2 separate regions of the Homo sapiens genome follow, and region 2 is reported to be linked to region 1. Evidence: microRNA targets listed by miRTarBase, many of them from high-throughput screens and not tested one by one. Region 1 holds a microRNA gene; the other region holds the end of a gene's coding sequence.
What was found. Region 1 holds the annotated microRNA hsa-miR-4295 (CAGUGCAAUGUUUUCCUU, at 1,130-1,147, opposite strand). A microRNA usually pairs through its seed, bases 2 to 8, with sites in the 3' UTR of a target mRNA and lowers its output. Matches are read on the target gene's strand: a 7mer-m8 pairs with bases 2 to 8, a 7mer-A1 pairs with bases 2 to 7 and ends in A, and an 8mer does both.

Region 1 (3,197 bases):
CTGCTAAAACACTACATCTGCCATGAATTCTGCATCTGCCTTTACCAAAGGGATCTTTCTCCTTAAATTCCTCAGCACGCTGTCTCATCTCCACAAGATTTACATGCCTGCATTATCCTCTTTACCAGAGTAAAAGCTGCTTGAAGGCAGGAAATGTGTTATCTTTTATTCCCCCCAAATAATGAGCACAGTGCCTGGCTCATATTATGAATAAAGGCACCTCCAGCCCCAGCTTTCTGAACTTTGCAGTTACAGGCAACAACAAGGCAGTGAAAACTCCGGCAAATGTCCGTAGGAGACTCCTAGAATTAGCTCCTCTAATGCTCCTCTGTCTGCCTATTTTAACAGTTAAGGAAGACACAGAAAAAATGTTGGCCACTCAGTCCAGGATTCAACCCCAGAGTTTATTTATTATGCATGTTTATGTATTCAGATTGTGAAGGAGGCAATGGGCATGGATTGTAAATTGATGGCAAACTTAATGAAAAGCAGACAAAACAGTGTAAGAAGGCTTAAATGCCTTTTAGAACATGGCAGATATATAAAAAAGTCATAAGAAAGTTTACAATAAAGAAAAGAATGTGGAAGAGTGAGAGTCAAAAAAGATAATTACGTAGAAGATTTTTAAACAGCTTGTCTAATGGAGATGCTGAGTGATTAAGACAAACAGCTTGCCAAACCACCTTGTCACAGGGACATAAATCTGAAAAAGCAGCAGACTCCTCAGAAAGGTCAGACAGATCACATTTAGTTTCAAAAGGAAGAAAACATGAAATTCGTGTGTGTGTGTGTGTGTGTGTGTGTGTGTGTGTATGTGTGTGTGTGTCTGTGTGTGTGTGTATAACCACCGAGAGGCAATGGTATGATATTGATAATCTTTGGAGAAAGAAACCTTCTGTATTGTCAAGTGACTTAAAACTCGAGGCACAATCCAAAACAAGAATTAAATAGCACAGCATAGTGTAGTCAACACCATATGAGAGGGTGCCTTCAGGGCAACACACACTGCTGCCAGAACACCAACCAAAAAATGGACAATCAGGATCTCAAAAGAGATGAGTCACCCAGAGGGTCTCTGTAGGAACAGTCTAGTTTCTTAGCCTTGAACCGAAGTGGTCTTGCCACAGGCAAGGAAAACATTGCACTGTTCCACAAAGTCAATTCTAAATGCATAAGCCATTGAAGCATATTTCTTATGGAATAAAGACTGAGGAGAAATAAAGGTTGAGTAATGAAAGTAAAGATGCAACAAAACTTTTAAAGTGGCCAATCTTGCTCATATAATGCTTGCAACCAAAAGGGAAGAAAGCTCTATTACTCTGGGAAAAAGGTGTTTGGATACACCACTAAAATAGGAAGCCTAAAAGAACCATTGTTTTATAATTCTGAGTTAACTGTGATCCTTTTTCCTTTTTTCCGTTTGTTAACTGATGGTATTTTCTGGAGTGAGTCATGACTTTTTTTTTTTTTTAGTCTAGAGCCAACTTGATAATGCTATTTAAATAAATTAACTAACTAAACTGCAAAGTATAAGCTCTTATGCCCATAAAATAAGAGAAGAACTGGGAAGTTCACCAACAAGGATGAAATAGGAGAGGCATTTAATAAAATTTGGTGACAGAGTCAGGGTAAGGTAACTCTCTCAGTGACACATTTATGTAATGCTAGTCTTCTCTGCATGGGAGACATTACTTTTTGGGGGCAATGCCCTTTTCCTCACCACTGCTTTTCTCCAATCTCTTCTTTGACTTCCTTTTGGGATCCCTGGGTATCCTGCTGTGTTGTTCCAGCCCCGGTGTTTTGCCTGCTATCTCTTTTCAATGTCTGAAGATCAATTATCCCTTCGTGCTAGCATAGGGAGGACAGAAATTCTGGGGACCACAACTTTTCCATTATACTTGAAGGAAAAAAGCAGCTCTCTCCTGTAAGATGGAGAATTCGGAGGTTTCCTCACAGGCTTCTGGTGATGCTTAAAGCAGAGAATCAACCTACAGGGTTTTAGCACAGTGCCTGGCACATGCGGAGTACTCAAAGGATGTGAGCTAATCTTCTTCTTACTATTATTATGTAAGTCCCGTAATTCTCTATGACCCACTATGTGTTCCAGATGATGCCGAAGACCTAGAAAAGTGGCTTTCATCACCATCAGACCTCTCCTCTCCTTCAGACCTCTCCTCTCAGGACTCACCATGTTGGTCAGGCTGCTCTCAAACTCCTGACCTCGTGATCTGCCCGCCTCAGCCTCCCAAAGTGCTGGGATTACTGGCATGAGCCACCACGCCCAGCCCAGACCACCTTTTTGTAACAAATATTTCACACAGGATTTTTAAAAAAGAAATCAATATAATGCCCTAGCTGTAATATAAATACAGGAAAATAACTTACAACAAAATAAGAAGTATTTCTATTTGTAAATACCCAGGCATTACTATACTAATAGATACAACTAAGTAAGTACATGCTTGTGCCTATACAACTGTCACATGCATGTACAATCAACATGCATGTGACACTACATATGCAAACCAATCCACAAGCACTGTAATGACAGCTCAAATACTACAAGTCGCATTACCATGAACACTGTACTCACCCAACTTTCCACCTGTTCCTCTTCCCTAACCCCCTTATGGTTAGGTAGGACTATATGACTATTTCTGGCCGGTACACTATAGTCAGAAGTGATGTACCTCAACTTTGGGTCAAAATATTGATGAGCTGGTATGTGAATCCCGTCTATCCCTGCCCGCAGTGGCTGGCAACGATCCCCATGGTGGAGTCTGGATGCTTGAGTAAGTGGGGCAGAGCCCTCTGTCAATGCTTGATCAACTTTTAGCATAAATAAAAAAGAAACCTTTGTTGTGTTAAACCACCAGAATTTCTAGGTTAATTTGTTACTGTAGCATAATCCTGTCTATCCTTCAATGGTAAAGAACTCTTTTAAAATAAACCCTGATTTTACACAATTATTGTATACTTGGAAAACTCCACATACGTTCAAGCCACACAAAAATACTTTGTGTTCATATGGAAAACTACGTTCAGATAATTATAAATAGGGTGTGCACCTTCACAAATGACCAGCAGGACATTTGAGAGTTTGTGCAGGATCAGGGAGTGTTGTAAAAGACTACGCAATACATTCCAGGATGTTTATTACCCTTGAGTTATCACTGAGATAACCAAAATGCCCCAAC
Region 2 (3,000 bases), not on the chromosome of region 1:
CTGAAATGCTACCGCAATATTCAACTACTGTAGTTTCAGCAGGTACAACAGACAACAAAACACTGGGGAAATCTGACTTTTTGCACTAAATGAAACATGAAACAGGGCTTGTTTTTGTCATTTATCGTGTAGTAAAGCACATTATAGTACAAGACTATTATATGAACCTCAGAAGCACTGCACAAAAAAACACTTTCCTTCTTTTCAGTTCAAAAGTCAGTGCTTATTGCAATTATATGCAAAATTATTTACTTCATGAAGTTTTATGATAAACAGTATGCAAAATGTTTTAAACATCAAAACAATAAAAATAATCTGGAACAGAACATATTCAACAATAACTAAGCAGAATTAGTAAACATAAAGTAAATAACCTGTGAATAACTATGCTTGCCTGGTTAACACTGAACCAGTTTCAATACAGCGAAGAAAAAAAAGAGTGGTTACAGGAATCCTAGTACTGTACAAGATAAGTCAATAACACTCATGCACATTTTGTGATCATGTATTAACATGGTGAAGCAAACTAAACTTAATTCTTCCTGCTGTAATATTCTCATGTAAGAGAATAATAGAAATATCTCATTGAGATCAATGCACATTGCTACATAAGACAATTTTATCTGTCACTTTGATGACATTTTGTCTTTTCATAATGAAACACATTTAAAAAGTTTAATCTGTGGACTGTATTGGTTGCATTTATCCTAAGAGATGTGCCTACCACAGGTTCAACAAATTTAGTGCAATATATGAACCCCAGAAAGTTTGCTGGACGAATTCAACCAAATTTAAAGAGTTTGCTGCAATACTGTACAAGGGGTTAAAAATCCTCCAGTCTTAATATTTTTATCAAAAAAGATTTCCATTATTTTTATATTAGTAGGAAGCTAATAATGTAAACAAGGGATTAGAATGGCCTCAAAATCTCCTTTTCAGAGTATCTCATAAAGAAAGGCTCCCATCATTTGTCAGGAGAAATCACACAGTTTCCTTTGGGTATTGCATACTTTGGTGTGCAGTAGTGCTGTGTCTCAATGTACAGTGAAGAAATAACTAGCATCAAGAAAAAAATACCTAACAAATCATGAAATCAAGATAACAGCAAACACACACAAATGCCAATAACTAAGACATATCAATATATAAACCTCTGCGCCAACTCTAGCACCATTTATTTATCAAAATATGTTAATACCCTACCTTGCAAATTTATTGAACAACAAAACCTTATTAAACCCTTCAGCACATTTGCTAAATATTCATTGATTGTAGTCTTCTGATTGGCTTACTAAGGTAAAGGAAAGCTTAGCTAGGTTCAAGGTAGCATAGCAAATGGTTTTATGTTAGCTTTAAAAACAATGGCAATTTAAAAATCTCTTTGAAAGTGATCTTGAAACTCACTTAAATGGAGCTTTCAACCAGTGAGTAGGTTTGTGTCAACATGCAACTCATAAATAATTATTCACAAAACAAAATGGGAGCCATAGAGAGAAACATTTTAAAACAAATCCTGAGTTCTTCTTTTGCAATTGTGGTTATCACAATAAATAAATTAAGCAAGTAATAAAATGCTCTTCTTCTTCAAGTACTATTGATATCCCCTTTGTTTCATCAGAGATATAAAGATTTGTGGCTTCAGACCTTAGGTGGTGAAATGTTTTTTGTTGTTTTTTATGTTATCCTCCTTCCTGTTTTTCAAAGGGATCCTATGATCAAACTACATTACTATATTCAGGAGGAGTGAGGGAGTCAGTCACTCAATTGAAGAGGAAAAAAACTGATTATTGTGGAATATTTTAATGAAAAATTTCAAAGTAAATCTCAGTTAGAATCTCAATATGTACATGCAGCCATTGTGATGAAACTAAGAGAATGCTTTTGTTTTCCTTCTCATTCCCCTAACTTAACAAATAATAAGACATAAAGCATTTTTCTAACATGCTTGTATTTATTATATTAAATTACAAATGCCTGGAGTTACATTTGCTTGTTTTGTGTGTGCGTGCCTGCGCATCTATGTGTGCTAGCTCCATATTAAAATCAACATTTAAATATTAATGCAAGGTCACAAATATAAATGGCTACTTGTTTTTTTTCCCTTAAAAATTTTAGTGCAGCTTTGCTTTCCTTAAAGTAATATTTAATTTTCCATTATTTTCTATTTAAGCCCTTCATCGTGGGTGTAAATGGTACTGAAGCCCCAGAAAGTCCTACAGAGATTTTTCACCCTACAGTAGCTCTATGCTTCAAGCCTAAATATTTATAATAACCTGAATATTATCCCTGTTTCAAGGAAGACTTTCTTGTCTACAGTTCACCCTAGCTATGATTTTATATCTAAAAGATAATGCCAACAACAAAACAGCCTATACCTAAAATTGATGGTTTATTCTGAGTTCTGTGCAGATCATCTGATGAAATGAAACTAACTTACACAAAATAAAGATCGACTGCTCTTGTAACAGCTGGATAGTCAATCAATGTGAATAAATGGGGCACATTATAAAATTTAAAACCTAATACTTGTTCTTCTACAGCCTACTGTCTTTAGACACTTGTTAAGAACTGAGGCAAGTCTAACCATTTCCTACTGAAGAAACCACTTCTGCAGCAAACGCTTTTAAAATGTCACAATTAATAGTATTTCTGCTGCGGGAGGCACTTCCATTAAGACAAATACAATACATATGTCTTTAGATACAGTGTGCTACATGTTATAAAACACAATTTAACCCAACATTTCAACAGTAGGATGGTCCTTGCTTTCTATCCATTCAAAACCTGATGAAGTCATAGAATTCATGGATTCACTGCAAATTTGTTGAAATAATGGGTCATTCTTTAATTCTTCCAGTGTAGCTTCATCATCTTGTCCCTGCTGACGACCTGGATCAAACAGTAGATTTGGGTCTAAAGTGTTCAAATCATTGATGCTGCCTGAGAGCTCAGAAGACAACCTGATATCGCTAGAGAAATCAGATGCAGTATTAGTGAGAT

Region 2: miRTarBase lists RFX7 as a target of hsa-miR-4295. Seed matches in the 3' UTR shown: 7mer-A1 at 2,113-2,119 and 8mer at 742-749.

The regions. Positions count from the first base shown.
Region 1 is chr10:112,632,130-112,635,326 of GRCh38, reverse strand. It overlaps MIR4295 (microRNA 4295), which reads right to left and starts at 1,157; the gene lies at 1,073-1,157. The region is part of intron 5 of VTI1A (vesicle transport through interaction with t-SNAREs 1A); the gene reads right to left. LOC124902503 (a long non-coding RNA gene) reads right to left here. Exons shown (of 2, transcript XR_007062292.1): 2 at 1-3,197.
Region 2 is chr15:56,090,614-56,093,613 of GRCh38, forward strand. RFX7 (regulatory factor X7) reads right to left here. Exons shown (of 10, transcript NM_022841.7): 10 at 1-3,000. The coding sequence ends at 2,732. Among named protein-coding and RNA genes, the nearest start is that of NEDD4, 99 kb to the left of the region's middle.